4 separate regions of the Homo sapiens genome follow, and all the other regions are linked to region 3. Evidence: fine-mapped expression QTL. A gene starts in region 3. Each other region holds a variant in brackets. All regions are shown on one strand. Distances are from middle to middle.

Region 1 (5,685 bases), 50 kb after region 3:
ATAGAGTAAGGAGAGCCTGAGGCAGGTATAGAGGGATGGGATCCCCAAAGATTCTAAGAGTCAGAAGACACTAGAATAGGGACCTATGGCCTAACATAGTGGGATGATGGTAGGAGTGAGTCCGGCAACGGCAAACTTGTATTTTTCTGTATGTATATGTGTTCCTGGTTTCTGTATGTATATGTATATGTATATGTATATGTATATGTATATGTATATGTATATGTATATGTATATGTATAATGTATATGTATATGTATATGTGTGTTGGTAAGCAGATCCACCATGCAAGCCTGGAAAGGAACAGATTTGCTTTTTGCCCAAAGTCCCTTCTGAGTGGTGGAGTTGGAGACTTTAGCCCAGGTTGTCTAGTTTATAATCCCATGCTCTTTTGTATACATTAGACACTAATATTGGTATCATCAAAATAGAGACTAGTATCATTGCTATTTTATTGCTATTTATTAAGTTACTATTAATTACTATGACTTTCATTATTACTATTAAGTTATTCATAGCTCTATTAATTAAATTTTATTAGAAATCTAACGTTTTAAGTATAGGTATAATATTACAACATCTTTGTGAAACAAGATTTTAAGGTTAAGTGATCACTACTTTTTGTGTGTATGAAAGAAAGCACCTTCTAAATTTCCCTGAAAGGTTTCTGATCCAGCTGGGGGAGGCTCTGCTGGCCATGGGAAGGGCACAGGATTTGACAGCAGAAGACCTGGTTGAGTCTTGCTTCTGCAGTTTGTTGATCTGCACGACCCTGGCAACTTGGTGAACCTTTCAGGGCCTTGGTTTCATCAGCTGTAAAAGAGGATTAATAACAACGCTTATCCTTCCTGTTTCAGAAGATTATGGGCAGAAATACATGAGATATGAAGTGGAAAAAAATGCTTAAAAATTGGAGAACATTATAGAATTGTTAGTATGGAGGGTGGGCACGGTGCAGGGGCATCGTGCGGAGGTCTCAGAGATTGCTGGAACTGATGCCCTTCCTTTTTTTTTTGTGATTCCTGTCACAAAAGAAAGGACATGAGTGGTTGGAAAAAACTATATCAGTTACAGTTCCTCATTTAAAAACAGAATAGAGCAAAATTTCTAGCCATAAAAGTTCAAGTTGACAGGTTTGAGGTAGGAAGGAGTCTACTGTAATTGTATTTACTCTGCTTTTTTTTTTTTTTTTTTTTTTTTGAGACTGAGTCTCATTCTGTCACCCAGGCTGAAGTGCAGCGGCATGATCTCGGCTCACTGCAACCTCTGCCTCCTGGGTTCAAGCAGTTCTCCTGTGTCAGCCTCTCTTGTAGCTGGGATTACAGGCATGCATCACCATGCCCAGCTAATTTTTATATTTTTAGTAGAGATGGGGTTTCACCATGTTGGTCAGGCTGGTCTCAAACTCCTGACCTCAGGTGATCTACCCGCCTCAGCCTCCCAAAGTGCTAGGATTACAGGTGTGAGCCACCATGCCTGGCCTGCTCTACTTTTTTCCTTACTTGAAAAATCCATGACTTAAATTTCACTTCAGACAGAGAAGGTGTTTAGCATGGTGAGTGGGAACTGCATTGACTTCAGTCTGAGTGCTAGTGAATGTTCAGGAATGACAGAGAGGGAGATGACCCTAAAGCCAGTGATGCCTCTGGCCTGGCTCAGACTCTTCGTTGTGAGATCTGTGGAGCCGCATCAGGAATTGAGGAATGGAAAAGATCGGGGCTCCTTTCAACCCGCTGGTGATATGAGCCCCACTCCGGGAACTCCCTGGCTGCTCTAGGAACCTGCAGGGCTGATGGCATGGCCTAAGCCCAAGAGGGAGACTCTGGACAGCTCTGTCCCTGCCATTCTCTCTGTGGCCTGTTCACACCCCTCTCCTTTCACAATCCTGTGTATGGTGCCCCATCCCTGACAAGGCAAGCATCCACTTCTGATTATTTAAAGTCTGCCTGCTTGATACAGCTCATGTCCAGCTGCAGGTAAGAGGTGGAAACCTTGGCTCACCCCTCGTCCTGCCTCAGCATCGATACCTGCAGTTTCTGTGGCTACCTCAGCAGAAATGATCTTTCAGCGCATTTCTTCTCATAACACAGAATTTTGCTTCTGGGTAAGCTTTTCTCCTTTGATCTAGGATATTGGACAACTGTTGAGTGGCATTTGCTTTTCTACTTTCCTCTTACCCCAGTCTTCCCAATGACTCGTCAAAGTTTAAAATGTCAACCGTCTTCTGATGCCAACATAAACGTTCATCCAGCTTCCTTAATCCGCGCGCACAGCTGAGTTCAGAAGTCCAGAAGTCTATCTACACTAACACTGCTAGTCCGTTTCTTATGGTCCAATCCAGAGGTATTTCCTCAAGCCCTTGTCTAGGTTTGATTTCATGTAGGGAGCTTGGAGTGTGGAAAATAGCACATTGCTATTA[C/T]CTACTGAAAGAGCATGGTCTGGCAGGGGGATGGGGACCTTGACTTCCACTGGCCAACCGACTTTGTGGCCCCGGTCCACCCCTGTGGCCCTCTCCTTCCTTGTCTCTGTGAAAAGAGCGAGCTGGATGCTATGGCTCCTTTCAGTTCTGACTCTAATGATCTAACTTTCTTCTTTGGCTGGTTTTAGTATGTGAAAAAAACCACCTAGCAGACCCCACTTCTTCCTGTTGGCCCCCTACCCCCAGGACTCAGACTTTGCGTGTTTTTTGCTGACAAGTCAAAAATGTGCACAAAGCCATTCAAACAGACCATCTAGCCAGTGATAGGGGATGTGTTTTATGATAGCAGTTGCTGGGATCTACATAGAGAATTTTATTTCCTTGAAGCCAATTGACCTGAATGGAAGTTAGGACCCCAAATCTCAGACACTTCTGCATGTACTGGCTCAGGCAGAATTTGTAAAAGATGTGGCTGTTATTGCTGAAATATTTGCATTTAATTTAATGGTAGCTTACATATTTGCACAGTGTTTTGCAGTTTTTCTTTACATGCTTGTTTAATCTTTTCAAAACTCTAGTATAACCAAAGCAGTTATGACCACTCCTGAGAAAGTCCACCTCAACTATGCATGTGCCCTGGATGCCACCACCTTGGCCAGCGTGCAGCATATGCCCCGCCATGCTGCCCATTTTAAAACCAGATTAATTAGCACTGTTTGTAAAAGGTTTTCATTTGACCTCAACCACTGGAAAAGCAAATAGCAATTCATGAAATAAAGTAAATGAGTAAATATGGTCAGATTAGGTTGTACAAAATGCGAAGAGTCCTCCTCTAAGGATACAGCCTCACTCTGACTGTTGAGGCCCGAGGAAGCTGCCAGCGGTGTCACACACTCTGTTGCTGGTCTAGGGAGGAAATGGCTCTGGAAAAAAATACTGGCATTCTTTACTCAAGTTTGCTTGATGTTGGAGTTGTAAGTGACCTCGAAGGGCATTTTAATGGGCTGAATTGTGGCCCCTGAAGATTCATACGTTGAGGTCCTAACCCACAGTACCTCAGAGTGTGACCATATTTAAAGTTAGGGTCTTTAAGGATGTCATGAAATTAAAATCAGGTCATTAGGGTCAGCCCTCATCTGTTATGAGCAGTGTCCTCGTGAGAAGAGATTGGGGCCACAGATAGGCACAAGGGAAGATAGGCGATGACACAGGGAGAGGATGACTTGTCTGCAAGCCAACGAGAGGGGCCCTGGAGAAACCAACATTGCCAACACCTTGATTTTGGACTTTTGGCTCCCAGAACTGTGAGAAAATAAATTTCTGTTGTTGAAGCCACCCAGTCTGTGGTATTTGTTACAGCAGCCTTAGCAAACTAATACAGTCCTGTAGGCCTAGCTTCACCCCAGTTTTAGATTCCCTTCCCCCCGAGTGCTTGACAGATGGTTATTAGCCTTTGCTTGACCGTTTCTAGAGATATGGAACTTGCTGTCTCCAAAGGCAGTGGAGGTCACTTGAGACTCTTTCAGTGAAAGTGGCAAAAATCCTTACCCAGAGAAGCTTAAGTAAAATGGGGACTGTATTGTCCAATTGAGAAGTCCAGCAAATGACCAGAGGTGTAGCTTTAACCAGGTCTCAGATGACGCGATCAGAACCTGCATCTCTCCCTCTATTAGCTCTGTCTCCTTTTGGGCAGGCTTACTCATAAGGCCTGCGCCAGAGGTCCCAGGCAGCTCTAGGATCAAGTTCAGCTGAGAACAGAGAATCATGCTTAGTTTCTGCTTAGCAGAAGGTAAAACAAGAACATCTGTTGTACTGACTGCTCCCAAGTCTGACGTAGAGAGTGGGTCCATCCCCTCTTCAGTAGAAAAGCCCTTCCCATCCTTGAGTCTCACCTGCAGCTTTGCTTCTCCAACTCCCTAGGGGTTTCTCCCAGAACATCCTATCCAAGACTCCTTTTTTCCTCCCTCCATATTGTGGCTCCTTTCTCTTTTGTTTTCGTCAGTGATCTCTTAAGATGTGATGCCCTTAACTGTACCCATTCCTGCTGTGTCTCACCACAGTCAGGAACAGCAGGATTAGTATCTGCTTTTGATTTGGTCATGACATTGCTTCAACCTGAGTTTCGATGAACTTGTTCAGCTTCGTCAAATTTAGCTTAGGGTCAAGTAAAACTCTTGAGGCCTTTTTAAAATTAACGGCTATGCCAAATGTCAGTGATTCTTCTCAGGAAATTATAGTGTTTGTGTCATATGTATACCTTAAGCCATATCCTAGGAAATTTTTAAACAAAATTGTAGGGGGTGTGTGTGTGAATATGTTCAGTCATTTGACTAAACAGAAAAATATAACAACAAAACAGCATATTGTGTCTTCTAAGTGGTTGGGTTCCATTAATCAAGGTTCTCTTTTGTTTTAAACATCTCTAGTTTTCTACCTGGAGATACACACAACTTAAGAAAAAAACAGATAAACTAAAATAACAATGGAGAGATATAAACATGGTCACAGCACAGTGACCAGCACAGTGATCCTGCTGATGGTGACCATAGTTACACTCTTAGCTTATCAGTCATTTTAGAGGGAAGAATCTGAACACAACAAAATGATTTCCAGCTAGTAGAGACTCAGACCCAAATTACTTTTACCTTTTCTCTTTCTAGCAGAAACAATAGAAGGAAGTATTAGTAGCTGCAGAAAATATACACAGCTAAATATTATTTCTAATTCACTCTCTGACATACAATGTGATTCTTATGCTCTGTTCTACAAGGATGGGTCAGTGGCCAGTCATACCTGCTGGCTGATAGAAGCTTGGTGGCTCCCAGGATCTCCTTGGTGGTCCCTTCAGCTATGCTGTGGGACTACCACTGACTCTGAGCTTTGTGGCTTATATCCTAGCTCTTACTCTTCTGGTGAGATAGGCTTGTGGTGAGCAGAACCCTGTTATCTGCTCAGAGCATGTGCTGAAGTTCCATTGCACAGTGCGTCAGGATGCTCCAAATAAACAAACTGTAATCAGCTACTCATTGAGCTATTTATTGTTTGTCCACATAAATAAAAATATTTATTTTCAACCATAGCCTATTAATGTTAGTCAAAAATGTTGCAGAATATAGACATCTATTTTTTAAATATATTTCTAGGCCTCTTTTTTAAGTCCATTCATTCTTTCACATACCCATCACTTATTCCTATACCATAATCAGATATCTTAATCATACATACACTCGCGTATGCACACATGTATAATATGTGCATAGTGTATA
Region 2 (5,685 bases), 34 kb after region 3:
TTATTTAATAAGTCAATAGCATGAGTTGAACACTGACTCAGTACAGAGTATGTGTTTAGGTTCTATTTTCTTTTTTTTCACGTTTTATTTGTTTATTTTTTTATTATACTTTAAGTTTTAGGGTACACGTGCACAACGTGCAGATTTGTTGCATGTGTATAGATAGGTTCTATTTTCAAAGGAATTGTTAGGTTATTTCCACATGCTAAGAAAAGATGGTTCTCTTCTACCTTTGCCTTTTGTCTGAGACATATGCAGCATTTTCATGATAAAATCCTAGTGGGTTTACTACTCCTTTGGTAAGCTTAGACTTGTGTGTTTCTTTCCTGTGTAGTATTAGTTACTCATCATTTCAAAATTCACTTAACCTTAATTTTCTGGTTTTTACGGACAAAAAGCATCTTCCATTTCTTGTTTAATAATGTGATGGAAGAAGATGGCTGTTATGGTCATATTGCTCCCAAGAGTCTGTGGGAATTCCATCAGTATGTGGTCATTTACCTGTTTTGAATTTTCATTCTGTCCATTAAAATGTATTAATTATTTCAAGTGCTTTTAAAAGAGTCTGATAGCTAAAATGAGAATATGTCCACATACTTAGGTAGAATGGATCTGTTCCTTTTAGTGATAATTTTGGGAGCTCAGTCAGGTGGTATTGGTTGTGATTTGGGGATTTAAACTTTCCACTGGAAGAATACCATTCATTAAGTAGTTGGTGAAGAGAAATGATCTCTGAATTATGAGCCTTGATGTGTTGCTTGTAGGATCACAGAAGTAGATCTGCCCATGGCCTTTATGCATGCATGTATATTATTTCAGTACTTTGTGGTTGTCCTGTTGGAAGTTTGTTTTTAGGAGTTGGCACTACCATATATTTGTGGAGATTCACAAATTCTTCATCTAGAGTAATAATAAGAAAGATTCATACCAGAAAATAGTTTTTTAAAAATAGCATGTCCAGTTTTGAACTCAGTATTTTAACAGTTTCACAATATACAACCAGTTTCTCAGGGACTGACCTGTCAGTCTAAACACACACACATAGAGTATCTGATTTCTGATTTTGACCTTGGATTTTGTCCTTCTCTGGAAGGTGACTTTCTCAGGCAAATAGGATAATAATGCTAAATATTTCCACTTTTAAAAATAAATTTCTTTTGATCCAAAATCATAAGACTTTGGAATTTACAGCAAGTATATTTTTAGGCTATAAATGATTAACAGGATATAAATGTATCTTAAGGTATCTTCACATTGCTTAACATTTTAGCAGCTATGAGTAGGATTATAATCAAAATACATTGCAGTAAATCATTTGTAAATTTGTAAATCATTACTTTCCAATGTTAGGCCATCCCCTATGTTATTTGATTTAAATTTATTTACATTTTAAGGGACACAGAAAAATCTATTCAATCAATCTGTGACTTTGCCCTGAAATTCTTACACTCAAGGTCTGTTTTGCCATGCAAATATTATCCGGGGGGGTTACATTACCTATTATTAGCCATCAATTACTACTTAATATTAGCAAAATATACAAATGAACTAGCCAGTCAGTTTGGGAAAGAAGAAAATACCTGATGCAGCTAGTAAGAGGAGGAACACCAGGGTTTCCTGATGGGATGCTGCAGGATGAACCAGAACAGATAGCAAGATGCTGGGCTTCAGCACAGCCAAGGACACATGGGAGGTGGCACATGATAGTCTGGTCACTGGAGGAATAGCAGTAAGTATTATAAGAGGGAAGAAACTCTGCAGCCGGGTGTTCAATGTGAGCTGGCCACTGAAGGGTTTAAGGAAGATCATGCCTACTTTTTTTTCTCCTTCTTCTCATCATCTTATTTCTACCCATCTCTTTGTGCCATCTTTGCTGATCTTAGGCCCACAGGCTCTCAGATCCTCTCCTTGCCCCGTATGAAAGGGTGCTGATTTCTGTAGGCTATGTTTTCCAGGGTCTGTTCTCGTGTCTTCTACTTGGGTTCGGCTAATGTATTGGTTCTCAACTCACCAAGAGAGCTTTTAAAGCTCCTAATGCCCAGGTTGCACCCAGACCAATTACATCAGTCTTTCTAGGGGTGTACCGAGGCATTCAACGTTTTTACAGCTTCCTAGTTGATTCTAGTTTGTGCAGCCAAGGTTGAGAACCACCAGGCTAATGGGAGGCATAGGTAAGGGGAGGATTACAGGAAAGGAGGAGGGGCGGGGGTTGGGGGGAAAGCAGGGCATTTATATTTCTCTTTCCAGCTCATGCAGCATGTTTGTGTAAGATTTGGAGATGGTTCCCTCTAGTCCTCTCTCTGGCCTCTTGTAGTTTACTTATGTACATGTGCTGGTCAGTACTCAGCTGAAGACTCTAGGGAAGCTACAGATCTCTACAGTCCTCTCTCTCTGTAGCTTTCTCCACGTGGGTACTCTGTCCCGCTTCCCAGACTCTCAGCCTTGTCTCCTCAGCTCTAGAGACCTCTGTGAGCTGCTGCGTCTCACCTATGCCCCACCCACTGTGGGTGGCCCTGAGCTCCAACAACATTCTCTCCTCTCTTTATTCTTCTGCCCAAGGCCGTGGAGAGGCTGCCTGTGGTTCTCACAGTGGTCTGGCTTCCCAGCTTTTCTGTCACCTACCTAACCAAGTCCCTGAATTAAGTCAGATTGGTGCCTGCCTCTGATGAGATCCTGATCCACCACTCTTCACTACTTACAAAGACTCCTGATGGCAATTGATACTGTGAAGAAACAGAATACAAATAGAATAACTCAATTATTGATTAAAAAGCAAAAAGATGGTAGACCTTAAATAACTTTTTCCCCATTCTGATTCCTTAAGGGAGGATTAATTCTTCTTTAAAAATGGTTTTTACCACAATAAAAATGTTTTAAAAGATGACTTAATTCTCATAGTAAATTTGGAATTATGAATTCTACATGCTCTAGAGGACCAAGTATTATTCTATATTACTTAAAAATCAAAATCCTAGACATTTGTTCAATTTAGTTGAACAGTTATTTAGGCCCAAAGAGCCTCAGATTAGTAAGATGCAGGGGCTGAATACTAAAGGGAAGCGTGTTGGAAAAAACAGGAGAGACTGAGGCCAGATGGATGCTGGGATCAGTAACCTGAATTTCATCTGGAGGCAGTAGGTAGCCATAGCAAGGTTCAAAGCAGGGAGGACCATAGATTTTCATATGTTCCTCCCTGCTTTGAATGTTGCTATG[C/G]AGGGTAACTTTGAAGCCAGGAGCCCACTGAGAAGGTTCTTAAAATAGTCCAAGTAAGAGACGGTACAGGCCTGAACTGCAGCAGTAGCAACAGAAATTGAGGGAAGGAATAGATCTGGGAGGTAAAATTGACAGAATTATTTGGATGTGGAAGTGAGGTAGAGACCCCTACATTTCCAGCTTGGTATGGTAATTCCAAAAATCTAATAGGAAATTCAGAAAGGAGATGTAGAATGGGGTGGGGGTGTGATTGTTTGGTTTGAAATTGAAACATCTAGATGGGGATGTCTAGCAGGCAGTTGACACAATATTGTAAGTCTGAAGCTTATAGGAGAGGTTAGGACGGGATGCAGATTTGCAGCAGTGAAAATCGGGAATGTGGATAAGATCAACAAGGAAATCTTGTCGTCTAAGAAGAGAAATGGGCTGAGGAAAATCAATTATAATTGTCTCCAAGATAGTATTTCAAGTTTCTGATTTATTGAAATGTTGGTCTGTGCTTTATTGCTTAAAGTAAGTATCCTTATGCTTGAGAATATTTTGTGTTATATGGAACTGTCATTATGGTATTACCGTAACCTGTTTCTATATATTGTTTTAGCAGCAATGGACTTTCTGAGCACCCCCCAATATCATCACCTGAGCCAGGAACCCTCTGTGGGTGTTCCTAGGTGGGCCTAAGACATAAGCAAGGGAGAAAAAAAATAAAAGGAACAGGACTTTAAGGATTGTATGGTGGTTACGAGCAGAGGCTGAGTCAGATTGCCTGGCTCTGCAACTTGGAACTATATGGCCTTGGACAAGTTACAGAACTTTTTGCATCTCTGTATTGTTATCTATAAATAGGGATATTATTAGTACCTGCTTCTTAGGGTTTTTTATGAAGACTAGATGAGATAAAACATGGCAATTGCTTCAACAATGACCAGCATAGATTAGGAGTTCAGCTTATTTTACTTTTTTTCTGTCAGTCTGATATATTATGCTGTTTATAACTACAAGACCCATTGAAGTTGATAAAAATACAAGTTGACAGTACAATATCAGAAGTGTACAGATGATTAAACCTGCAAAGTCAAGATGTTTATGATTTTCAAAATAACTAACATTCCCCCTTAAACATCTTAGTCAAATTGAAATTTTTCTCCCCAAATTTCTGATGACCATAGATTTTCAAATGAAATGGAGTTATATCAAATTGGAAGTGCACTCCTGATACAGCCTTTATATAATAGAATCTTTTGCTCTTATAAACAAAGGTTGTCTTCTTAAAGATTAGTCTAGTCTGGGTGTGGCTCACACCTATAATCCCAGCACTTTGGGAGGCTGAGGCAGGAGGATGTCTTGAGCCCAGGAGTTCGAGATCAGCCTGGGCAACATGGTGAGACCTTGTCTCTACAAAAAATAACATTAGCTGGGCATGGTGTCACACGCCTGTAGTCCCAGTTACTTGGGAGCCTGAGCTGGGAGGATCTGTTGAGCCCAAAAGGAAGTCAAGGCTGCAGTGAGCTGTGATCACACCACTGCACTCCAGCCTGGGTGACAGAGCAAGACCCTGTTTCAAAAAAGAAAAGGAGAAAAAATGAGTAGTCTAATTAAGTTAATCAGTACTAGAAAATGAAGTACTTTTATACTTTCAATTTTGTAGGATATGTGTAAAAAAACTGTTGATTTGATGTCATCTGACTAGTTAATGAAATAAAAGGTAATAACTTTTCTTAGCACTGGTGAAATGAGACCTGTTTGGCCTGTGTTTTCTCTGCCAGAGCAGTACAAGTAATTGACTGTGGCTTTAAGCCCAGTGTATGAGTATTCTTGGTCATGGCCCAGTTTTTCACAGAGGTACGAAGATTCCATGTGGAATCCTGCCAGCCAACTTATAGGCACTGTAGAATATAGTTTAGCCACAACATCAGTTCTACTGTAATATCAGTGTCAGTTTTTAAAATGTGAAATAAATGAGTGCTCTGTAGCAGTGAAACAGGAGTTTACTCACAAGGTCTGAGGAAGGTGGATTGCAGATGTAAAGTGGCTGTGTGTTCTTTTCTTTTTAGTGTAGGGGAGATTTTATGGTTCCATCGAAGTCATCATTCTCCACAACTCAGTTTTGTGTTTTTTGTTTGTGTTTTTCATTTATTATATAAAAACCATGGCAAAGCACTAAAGAAAACAAACATAAAGCCACACTGTAACTCCTGAAATTGGATAATCAGTCCAACATTTCTACAGGGGTTAGAATTTATATCATCTTGTGTAACTTTATTGTTACAGTTTTGAAACTGAGTATTAGGGTGCTAAAACCATCCTCCATTTCATTCAGAAACAAGTGTTTCATAAAGATAATGTTTTGTGCCCTATTTTAAATTCCAATTATTTTATACAAAATCATAGTAAAAAGTGACGTTAATCTTTTTCCTTGTTTTTGCACTATGTATCTTGGTAAATTAACTGTAGCATACTGGGTAACAAATT
Region 3 (5,685 bases):
ATCATGGCTCACTGCTAAGGTTGGGAGATTGACCTCTCGGGCTCTGTCAATCTTCCTACCTTAGCCTCCCTAGTAGCTGGGACTATAGGCATGCCACCACACCTGGCTAATCTTTGTACTTTTTGAGAGATGAGGTTTGCCATGTTGCCCAGGTTAGTCTCAAACTCCTGGGCTCAAGTGATTCGCCCACCTTGGCCTCCCAAAGTGTTGGGATTACACGCATGAGCCACTACGCCCAACACCAAAAGAATCTTTACAAACACCTTACCATGTAATTTCTTTGCTGTCTCATAGGATTGTGCAACACCATGAGGCACCCTTCACATTGTATTGTACCTCCTAGCTGTGCAACCAGCCAACATTGCTCCTCTCCTAAAACATAGTGAGACTCCACCTGTACAAAAAAAATTAAAAATTGGCTGGGTATGGTGGTATGCACCTGTAGTCCCAGCTACCTGGGAGGCTGAGGTGTGAGGATCCCTTGAGCCCAGGAGTTCGAGGTTACAGTAAGCTATGATCACACCACTGCACTCCAGCCTGAGTGACAGAGCAAGATCCTGTCGAAAAGAAAAGAAAAGAAAACAGATTACTTTGGTGGCAAAGTGAAAAGTTGATTGGATGAGAGAACATTTTGAGGCAGAGAGACCAGAGAAATTTTGCAGGCAAAGGAGAGATAACAGAGATTAGGATAGCACAGGGATGGAGAGAAGAGGACAGGTGCTAGAGATATTTGAAAAGGTAGAATCAAGAGTTTGGCATCTGACTGGATGTCATAGACAGAGTCATGGCCCGCTGTAGATGTCCATGTCTCAATCCCAGGAGCCTGTGAATATGCTTCATGGTAAAAGGGACTTTGATGATGGGATTAAGATTCTTGAAAGGAGGAGATTACGCTAGATGATGAAGGTGAACCCAATGTAATGAGGGTCAGAGTCAGAAAAGGCAATGTGAGGATTGTGGCTGAGGTTAGAGTGGTGTGCTTTGAAGATGGAGGAAGGGTCCATGAGCCAAAGTATGTGAGCAGCCCCTAGAAGTGGAAAAGGTAAAAGAAATGGGTTATTCTCTACAGCCTACAGAAAGAATACAGCCTTGTAGTCACCTTGGTTTTAGTTCACTAAAACCCATTTTGGACTCTTGACCTCCAGAATCGTAAGATAATAAATGTGTGTTTTAATCCACAAAGTTTACGATAACTTGTTACAGCAGCAATAGGTAACTAATACACTGGGCATGGGTATAAGGGTGAAAGGAGCATTGAGAAGAAGGGCCTTGTACAACTGGGTGGATGGCTGTTTGGGACCCCAGAGTCTGGGAACCCAGAAGCAAGAGTGAATGAGGGGCCGGGTGCAGTGGCTCACACCTGTAATCCCAGTACTTTGGGAGGCTGAAGTGGGGGGATCATTTGAGGTCAGGAGTTTGAGACCAGCTTGGCCAACACGGTGAGACCCCATCTCTACTAAAAATACAAAAATTAGCCAGACATGGTGGCACATGCCTGTAATCCCAGCTATTCAGGAGGCTGAGGTAGGAGAATCACTTGAACCCGGGAGGCAGAGGTTGCAGTGAGCTGAGATCACGCCACTGCAATCCGGCCTGGGCGACAGAGTGAGACTCCATCTTAAAAAAAAAAAACGAGTAGGGGAAGAACAGAAGGTAAAGAAACATTGACGTGGCACTTAGTGAGGTTGGGGTGCCTGTGACACATCCCACTGGACAACTGGCCATAAGGATCTGGCCCTCAGGAGAAAAGCTGACCCCGAGAGAGGGCTTTTGGAGCACCCTCAAATATTCTGTGATTGAAGCCAAGGAGTGAGAGAATTCGCAGAAACAAACAGAATCAGAAGAAAGGAAAGCCTAGAACAAAACCCAAGGAAAACTAAAACTCAAGTGGAGCAAAGGGGAGTGGCCAGAGAGGAAGAGGAAAACCCAAGACTTGTGGGTCACAGAAGGCAGAGGAGGGGAGAGTTTCAAGGAGGAAAATCCAACACTTACGGAGCACCAAAAGAAGAGAAGGGAAGAGTTTCAAGGAGGGGACCAGTGTCTCGTGTTCCTGACAGGAGAAAGAAATGCCTGGAGAAAGAAATGATTGAATATCTACGTCAATATTGAAAGTGGATTTAGCATGAGGCTACTATAGTTTAAGCTTCAGAGACCCTTCATAAGCTCAGGAAGGGGCCCTAGAAACTTCGTATTTGTAATTGTTTTATTCTTCCTAAAGAGGGACTCAAAATTCAGAAACTTCAGGGCCTATCAAATTCTTACCAGTATGATTTCACGGTTAAGAGCTTAAAGCCTGGAGACAAAAGAAGCCTGCTTTCCCTTTCGCTGTTTAGTAACTTTGGATGGGTCACATTAACTTTCAGCCTCGGCTTTCCTCAGTTGTAAAATGGGAATAACGTTTCCTACACCTATAGGGTTATAAGGCTCAAAGAGTACCTACACAGTGCCCCGTACATAATCGATGTTTATAAGCGTTAGCTACCATTGTCACTCTTGTCGTTGTTGCCGTTAGCTACCATTGTCACTCTTGTCGTTGTTGCCAGAACAAGACAATAAACTCCTTAAGAACAGGATGTGGCATCCCCCAAAGCCCATCACAGGCACACAGACATACTTGCCAAGTGAATACTCCACTCTCCCCCAACTCTCTGCGTGTTTAACTAGAAATACAACTTTAATTATATTCTTAGTGCGACACACACGGTTGGCTTTTCAGCAAGATGCCAGTAGCAGCTTCCTGAAAAAGGGTGCCTTCGTCTCAGTGTTCCCCCTTCTTGGTGAGCCCCGAAACTCACAGATCGTTTGTCTCCCGCACCCCGCCGGCTCCTCCCTCCCGGGTCAACCTGGGACAGACGCGGAGATAACGCACTGACAGCATTAGCATTGTGTGTGCCACTTAAAAGGCGCTCAAGGAATAAGGGATGTTAGTACATTTTCCCCCACATTTCCTGGCCCGCACTCATTGCCTGGGGGCTCAGCGGAAGTCGCTTGGGGGTGCGGGGGGGTGGAGGGTGCGGTAGGGATGGAGCCTCGCCCAGTGCTTTCGCCTCCTCAGCGTGCTCCCCGGGCCCGGCTGGGTTCAGGTGTCCCTCCGGGCCGCCGGGGCGGGCTGGAGGCCGGGAGCGGGCAGTCGACGCATCCGCCGCCGCCGCAGGAGGCGGAGCGCTGCACCTGGCGGCCGGTCCTCAGCGCCCGGCCCTGAAACGGGTCCAGCCGGTAGTGACCGGCGGCGGCGACTGTGAGGCCGGGGCCGGGGAGGAGGAGGAGCCGCAGCGGGAGAGAAGGTCGCGCCGGCGGGAGCGCTGGGCCCTCCGCCTCCGTCCTCCGTGGCCCCACCCGGTCCGCATCCCTCGCCTCGCCTCGCCGCGCCCCGCCCAGCCCGTCGCAGCCCCGGAGGAGCGCGCGAGCAGCCCGGGATGGTGCGCGCTGCCCCGACAGCCGCCGCCCCGGCGCCCCGAGCCGCCGCCCCGTGCTCCGGGGACAGGGCTCCCCGCGCCCCGCGCAGCTGAGCGCTGCCGCCGCCGCAGCAGGTGAGTCGGGCCCGGCTTGCGGAGAAGGGGCTCGCAGACCCGCCCTGGCCTCCCCCGCCCCGCACGGGCCCAGCCGGAGGGCGGGTAGGCACCTCAGCCGCGCACACCTGCTGCCGGGAAAGGGGCTTCGGGGCCGGGGCTCGGAGCCCAGCGTGCGCCGCTGTCTCCGCTCGGGCCTCGCTCGCCCGCCGCTCCCTCCCTCCCTCCCTCCCCCGGCTTCCGTGTCGGGTGTCATCTTTGTGGGGTGCTGGGGGAGGCTGCCGCCTGCGCCCCCAGCGCGCCCCGTGCTGGCAGCACTTCCGCAAACGTAACTGGAGTCGGGAAAACAAAGGCGCTGCCCAGGGAGCCCTCGCCGGGCGCCCACAGCTGCTGCCGCGGGTGGGGACGGAGGGTGAGCGCCGATGCCCGGGTCCTCCTCCGCCCGGGCCGACCCGCGCCCTCGCCATAAACATCCCTGGGAAAAAGGAGGAGGTGAGAACCTCCACACAGCCCCAGTGACAAGGACGCGGCCACTTGTGTGGCAGGAGGAGGAAATTGACAACGTCTGCCCTCCCAGGTTAATAAATACGGAAAAAAAAATACCTCTGCTCTGCCAGCCACCATCCTAGCAGACATCCCCCACCTCGTGCTTTACTTCCACTTGGTCTAACATGTCTCTGGAGCCCTTTTGAGATACTACTGGGGGTTGCTAGTCTTTCTGGGTCATATTTATTGCCCATAGAGCAATTTTCCTGCAAATTTAGGTAAGATGGTGGAAAAATACAAACGCAACTTTCCCCCTCGTTAATCCCATCCCCACATGGACAGACAGGTGGGTTAATTACCTTTATGCATTCGCAACCACGGACGTTTCTTTTCATCCCAAAAAGATTGAATAAGCACCTCACAGAACTACTGGAACATATAATACCTTGCTTATTAGTGTGCAAAAGACTTAAAGAGTTGGGGTTCTAATCCCAACTGGTATTTAAATAGATGTGTGTGCTTGGGCATGTCACATCTTCCTGAGCCCCAGTTTTCTCACATGGAAAAGAGGATGGTTGGATATTATAGTGGCCAAAATTTCCCCTAATCCTTCTAGAAGTCCATGATTTTCTAGAAATCTAACCTCTTAAGTATAGATGAATGTGAAGGGTGGGTGGACATACAGTTGACTAAAATATGTAATAAAAGGAGATGTGTACTTGGTAGGTCCTTTCCCCAAGATGTGGGCACTAGCCAGCTAAAAGTGTATGCATCTGTTTTAGCCTTGTTAAGTAAAAGGATAGGATCCTCCTCTTTGGGAAGCTTGGCTTTTGACACGTCAAGCTGCTAGCAGAGGTGCAGGATATGGTCAGCTGTTTAGTGATAGTCAGATGGCTTGTATTTATCACGAGGTGTAAGTAAAATTTAGGATTGCTTAGGGGAAGGATGGGACATTGTTAATGAGCCCAGTGCAGGATGCTCTGGGGAAACAGGAGGAGAGAACATCACTTCAATAATGCATTAAAGCTACTAAGTAGTTGTGTGTCCTTCATGTTTACAGCAGTTTATTTCTAAGGCACTTTCCATCTCTATACAAATAAATATAAAAGCGTGAAGGCAAATAAAACACAAAGACAAAAAGCAGAGTTCACAGGTATTTGGTGGTGTGAGTATTGGATCACCAATTCCATCATATATAGTGTCTGGACTATTAACAGTATTAAGGCATTTTTTTGGGTACTTATTATGTTCAAGACACCATTGTAAACATTTAGTATCTCAATCTCTGTAAGATAAATCTTTCCCCTAGTTCTGTGCATGACAAAAAGGAAGCTCAGAAGGGTTAAGCAACTTACACAAACCACATAATCAGTAAGAGGTAGAGTTAAATTTGACCTCATGTTTCTGGCTCCAAAGCCCAGGAAATTTCCACATGGTGTCCCTCCCTAATCAGAACCTATTAAGTCTCTCCACCTACGCAGATGTCTTCCTTAGCTTCGTGCCTTTGAAAATTAACTTGATTTCAATGTACATGTATTACTTATGTTAACATTTAGCCATGTAGGATAATTTATATATTTATTACGTATGTATATTAATGTGTGTATGTTTACCCTTTTGTCCTCACCAGTTGTAGATTGAAGGCAGTATGAAGCTGACAGGTTTCTTTGTTTTACTTCCTTTGACAGCA
Region 4 (5,685 bases), 75 kb after region 3:
GCCTGGGTGACACAGTGAGACCCTGTCTCAAAACAACAACAAACAAACAAAGCACATTTTCCTCCTCTTATGCTCTGCAAGAGCATGGGGAAGAAATACTAGTTTTATTGTCTAACTTAGTTTAAACCCTTGAACATAAAGGCCATGCTTATACTTTTTCAGTTCTCCAAAGAGATGTACATATAGGAAGATACACTATTAATGCTTGTTGTTTAATTCATTTTTCAGCCCCCTGTATCATGTACTATAGTTAGTAGTTTATAATTTTTATATCTTTTGAATGATATAAGAAATTCTATCTCAAAAACTTATTAAGTATCTGAAGAAAATTTGAAAATTAAATTTAAAGCTGAACCTTCATTATGAAAGCTCTTCCTAGGATGACATCTTGCCATCCATAACACATCTGTAAAATCACCCATGTATTTTAATTAGTACTTATACCCTCACCTCACTCTATAAGTTAGCTGAGGCAGATTACCAAAATATGCAATAATCCGGAAACCATAAAGTGCTAAGGCTTGAATTAGACTATCTGGGTTTGAATTCTAACTCCCCTACCTATAAGCTCTGTGTCTTTGGACAAAATGCTTAATCTCTCTAAGCCACAGACTCTTGAGTTATAGGAGAGGTTGACATGAGTATTAAATACACTAATCCATGCAAAGTATTTAGCACAGTACCTGACCCACAGTTAGCTTCTAATAAATGTTAGAAAACATACAATACAAAAAAGTAAAATAAATTATAAATAAATATAAATCAGGATCAGAGAAAATATAATTTAAAAGATCCTATTCTAAGGAGTTAAACTTCAATTATGCATTAAAGCCTGGCTATGAATTAAGCTGAAGCCTAATGACCAAAGCGTAAGGGAAATGTGGCTAGTCAGTGCACACTATTAATAAAGTTATCTTTGAGGAAGATAAGTGAAATCTTTATTGGCTGATAGAAAAGCAGTTCTCATGTGTGGCTTCAGGTGGGAAAACACTGGGCGTGTAGTATAATGTTGCCAAGTCTTAACATTAAACTCCCTGGGTTTTGGGTGGTAGTCTCCTAAAACCTGCTTAAAGGTATGCCAAAGGCATAATGCCAGCATGTAAAAATTCACGAGGGCCCCCTAGAACATTGTTACATCAGTTATAGACTTTTTTTAAGCAACTCATATATTTTTTTAAGTTTGCAAGCTAGAGCTTATAGAAGAGATCTACTATTTTATTTCCTCTGTCCACTTTTACTTATATATGGGATTTGGAAGTTTTCTCCAACCTTACCCAGGGTACCTTTTATCCATAAATGCTTTCTTCGTCATATCCCAACATGTAGACCACTGCCTACCCTGTTTCAGTTCAATGTCCTTTTGTTCAGCTGCTGTTACATGTCAGCCCTCTGCTGGGTGCTGGATATGTCTGTTCTCAAGGAGCTCAGTCTGCGTCCCCTTTAGATAAATCCTGCCCCCTTTCACCTGCCAGACTGTAAGCTCCTTGGTGGCTGGGGACATTATTTTGCATATTGTCATATTTTCAAAGCCTAGCAGGCTATCTGGCACATAATATAGATGCTGAGTAAATACTGTTGAATGCATGAAGGGGATTCTTGCAGTCCTATACATCAATAGGTGTGGGAATGTTGGCTTTTAACACAAATTGTTGCATGTCTTATATAAACTTTCTTTCGTGCAGCACACAGAAGATCCATGCTGCTGCTGCTGCTAAGTCCATTGCTCTTTGTAGGATCCTCCGCCATTTGTGGAAGGTGTATTGCTGTTAGTAGCCCCAACTCTGACAGAGAGACTGGCTTGCTACTCACCATCTCTGTTTCCTTTTCTTCGTGGACATGCAGCTAGATTCTATTTCCCAGCCTCCCTTGCAGTTAGGTATGACCATGTGGTTAATTCTGGCCAGCGGAATAAAAGCAGAAATGATAGGAGGAAAGGATAGCACGTGGGAAATTGTATGGGTCAGGTGCAGAGGTGTGTCACTCCCTTCTCTGTCAGCTGGATATTGATACCTAGGGTAACCAGGCATTGCAGATGGCAGATTCTCTGTAACCTGGATCCCTGAATGACTATGGAGCAGAGCTGCTACTACTCCTGTCTCCTGTTCATTGGACTTTGTGTGAGCAAGAAAAGAAAACATTTAATGTGTGAAACCACTAAGATTTCCAATATAGACTTTTTCTTTTATTGCCTGCCCAATGGAGGCCTTTCCTTAGGAAGAATAGTCTCTTACTGATTTTCACCAAGTTGACCTTTCGGAAGCTTTCCTTTTTTTTTTTTTTTAATCCCAGAACTAATTGAAATGTATGCTTTGGTCTATTCATGGGAAAGGTTTGTCACAGCTGATTCTGTGTGCCAATGCTAAAGGGATAGTTATGTTTTGTTCAGTAAGCTTAAGTCAGTGGCAGAAGGAAGAAAAACAAAACAATCCTAGTTCCCTAGTACTGTGTCAGTTCTCACTCCTCCCAGCCATTATAATGTGATTTCCCCAAGCCAAGCAACAGTTTACAAAGAGCAGCTGTCTCCTTAAGAAGAAAGGA[CT/C]TTTTTTCCTGCTCATACATGCCATTTATTTCAGTAGAGCATTCTTGTGGGCCAAGACTGAACAATTTTGAAATGCATGTTGTACAATCAGATACCAGTGTTGAGTGTTATAAGGTATTTGGGGCATTTAAAAAACAATATAGATGACATGTCAGCTCTTCAGAAAGGGTGGAGAAGAGTTATTAAGACTATCATCTTTTTTTTTTTTTTTTTTTTTTTTTTTTTTTTTTTAGACGGAGTCTCACTCTGTCGCCCAGGCCGGACTGCGGACTGCAGTGGCGCAATCTCGGCTCACTGCAAGCTCTGCTTCCCGGGTTCACGCCATTCTCCTGCCTCAGCCTCCCGAGTAGCTGGGACTACAGGCGCCTGCCACCGCGCCCGGCTAATTTTTTTGTATTTTTAGTAGAGACGGGGTTTCACCTTGTTAGCCAGGATGGTCTCGATCTCCTGACCTCGTGATCCACCCGCCTCGGCCTCCCAAAGTGCTGGGATTACAGGCGTGAGCCACCGCGCCCGGCCGACTATCATCTTTTAAACTGGTAGCTTGTGGGGTATGTTTGATATTAACAACAAAATCTCTCAAAGTAGATAGTTACATTTACTATAGAATACTTCTAACAATTGTTATGAGAACATATAGTGTAATATTTAAGCACCTAAGCTCTGAACTTGGACACCTTGGGTTCAAATCCTATTCAACAACTCTCTTCTCTGTGTGACTCTGGACAAGGCATCTAATATCTCTGTGCCTTGGTTTCCTTTTTGGAAAATGAAGAAAAAATAGTACTGTACCTATTGGAGGAATAGATTCAATAATCTGTGTAAAACACTTAGCACAATTCCTTGTAGAGTAAGCTGATGTGATAATATTAATGAAAACAGGGTTGGGCGCAGTGGCTCACGCCCGTAATCCCAGCACTTTGAGAGGCCGAGGCAGGCAGATCACGAGGTCAAGAGATCAAGACCATCCTGGCCAACATGGTGAAACCCTGTCTCTACTAAGGGTACGAAAATTAGCTGGGCGTGGTGGCACACACCTGTAGTCCCAGCTACTCGGAAGGCTGAGGCAGGAGAATTGCTTGAACCCAGGAGGCAGAGGATGCGGTGAGCCGAGATCACGCCATTGCACTCCAGCCTGGGCAACAAGAGTGAAACTCATTTTCAAAAAAAAAAAAAAAAAAAAAGTTAACGAAAACAATTAATGTTACTCATAATTATTTTTAATGATTCTAGGTTATTCAAATGTAATGGATCCCAAGTAAAGTCTTGGCAGTAGGTAGTGTGGATATATCTCTTGATTTTTACTGTGCCTCAAAGCCAATCCTGGGGGATCCCAGTAAAGGTAAGGAAGGACTGAGAAACTAAGTTTATGTGGACTACTTGGTCTCTGAGAGTCATTCATTCTCAATCAATATATTTAAGCACCTGTTATGTGAGTTGGTATTGAATTGTCACTGAAGGCTCAGTGGTTTTATGACAAGCAGCCATGGAAGAGTTAACACATTGCAAGGAGAGTCAGTTCCTGTGCCCTTGTTACTGTTGTCAGTCAGGGAGTAATAGCTTGTATTTTGACTGTTTGATCTACCAACTTTGTTATCTCATACTTAAAAAGGTTTAAAAATTTGTAATTCTAGTGTAAACACATTTACCCATGCCACTGAGTAAATGTGCTTATTTCATCACATAAAGAATAATCATCTACTGCTTTTTCACAGTTCTCTAATAACTAAGAAAGTAGAAGCATTTTCTTTTTCTAGTTTATAATATCTTTTGTCCCCTCTACTTTACAGGAATGTCGTTTTCGGTAGCACAATTCCTAAGACTTCCTAAATCTTGTCTTACAAATATGGGAAATGGCGGAGGGTTTTCAAGTTTCTAGGTTGCTTTTTTTGTTATTTTAAAACGAGAGAATCAGAACACAAATGTAGTAAAAACATTGGCAAGAGCTTCAGATTATTAAGATTACTAGAAAGTTGCATGTTCCAGTTTATGAACGAGAACTGCAGCTCCACCACTGTCTTTTGTATACACAGATGATGTTCTAATTTAATCCCTTCTTACGGATTGCTACATTTTGCTGGTTTCCTATCTAAGAAATGAGATGAATTTAATTGCTTCTTCACTTATACGATATCTTAAAATAAGTTATTTTAGGGAAATCAATTTTAATCCTGTATCTGCCCTGGAAAACATCAGAGCATACAAGCAGAGTGGCTTTCATTCTTCTGCTTTTAGTATCAGAAATTTTGTTTTTGTGCTTTACTATTTTTTCCTTCACTTAATTCCCTGAGTTAATTTAAAGAATGTAATTCCCAATTATCTAATCAGTCTCAAAAGCAATATAGAAACTAGAAGTCTAACTGTGGAGAATCTTTTACAACTACCACTTAATACTAGTCAGTAAATTCTAAGAATAGTTTAAAAGCATCCTGACTTAAGTCATCCCACTGGAAAATGCTTTAATTATCTTAGAACACTCAAAGTTTTAGAAAATGATTAGAATTTCTGAGAGGGGGAAAATAGATACAAACCCTGTGGTTGGAAGAGTTTGTGTGTGTCCAAGCCTTCACACTTAAAAGAATAACTGCTAGAATTGTTTTTTATCTAGAATTATAATAAATATATTTTAATGTTTTGGTTGCTTGTAAATCCTGCAATTGATTGCTTAGACATACACATAACAAGAGGTTTGGCGTCAGCATTAAAGTTAACCTACTACCATTTGATGTGTTTTCAGGTTTTCGGTAATTCATCTTTAAGAAATGATTTCCAAATCTGTGTTGGATTTTGCTATTGAATCTAATTAATTTTGAATAAATTAATTTATTTCTTGGAATATTTTTGAGTTTTTCCCCCAGTGTGGTTAATGAAAAAAAATCTGCATATGTGAAAAGAAATGGACTTAGCATCATCTTTAATAATAGAAATGAAAATACTTACAATTATTCCCATTAGGTACTATGGTGTCAACACTCATAATTAAGACTATCCAGGCATTATTCAATTCTGAGAAAGCTGGCATTATCTAGGGTATTGCAATTGTTTTGCCAGATAAAGCAAACACGTTATTTGACTTCTTAGGAAATTAACTGTGTATGCTACTGCTAATCATCTAGTCCATCTTACTAGTTAAAAAAAAAAAAAAC

Direction of the effects. Alleles are on the strand shown, and positions count from the first base shown. SD is a standard deviation of normalised expression in the study named. Not every link is listed here.
With allele T in place of C in region 1, the expression in nucleus accumbens of the gene that starts at base 3,382 in region 3 is lower (small effect, 0.18 SD a copy in GTEx).
As copies of CT replace C in region 4, the expression in subcutaneous fat of the gene that starts at base 3,382 in region 3 goes down (small effect, 0.29 SD a copy in GTEx).

The links. PIP is the estimated chance that this variant, and not a neighbour inherited with it, causes the effect.
Region 1: its variant is the best candidate, but not a certain one, in a credible set for the expression of MFSD6 in nucleus accumbens (GTEx, PIP 0.63).
Region 2: its variant is the best candidate, but not a certain one, in a credible set for the expression of MFSD6 in whole blood (TOPMed, PIP 0.50).
Region 4: its variant is the best candidate, but not a certain one, in a credible set for the expression of MFSD6 in subcutaneous fat (GTEx, PIP 0.57).

The regions. Positions count from the first base shown.
Region 1 is chr2:190,454,759-190,460,443 of GRCh38, forward strand. The region is part of intron 3 of MFSD6 (major facilitator superfamily domain containing 6); the gene reads left to right. It also overlaps a transcript of NEMP2 not described here. Among named protein-coding and RNA genes, the nearest start is that of MFSD6, 49 kb to the left of the region's middle. The variant C/T (reference allele first, on the strand shown) is at 2,420.
Region 2 is chr2:190,439,280-190,444,964 of GRCh38, forward strand. All of the region lies in intron 3 of MFSD6 (major facilitator superfamily domain containing 6), which reads left to right. It also overlaps a transcript of NEMP2 not described here. Among named protein-coding and RNA genes, the nearest start is that of MFSD6, 34 kb to the left of the region's middle. The variant C/G (reference allele first, on the strand shown) is at 3,214.
Region 3 is chr2:190,404,974-190,410,658 of GRCh38, forward strand. MFSD6 (major facilitator superfamily domain containing 6) reads left to right here and starts at 3,382. Exons shown (of 8, transcript NM_017694.4): 1 at 3,382-3,530. RefSeq lists an enhancer at 2,653-2,702 and a silencer at 2,963-4,002.
Region 4 is chr2:190,480,134-190,485,818 of GRCh38, forward strand. All of the region lies in intron 4 of MFSD6 (major facilitator superfamily domain containing 6), which reads left to right. It also overlaps a transcript of NEMP2 not described here. Among named protein-coding and RNA genes, the nearest start is that of NEMP2, 52 kb to the right of the region's middle. The variant CT/C (reference allele first, on the strand shown) is at 2,539.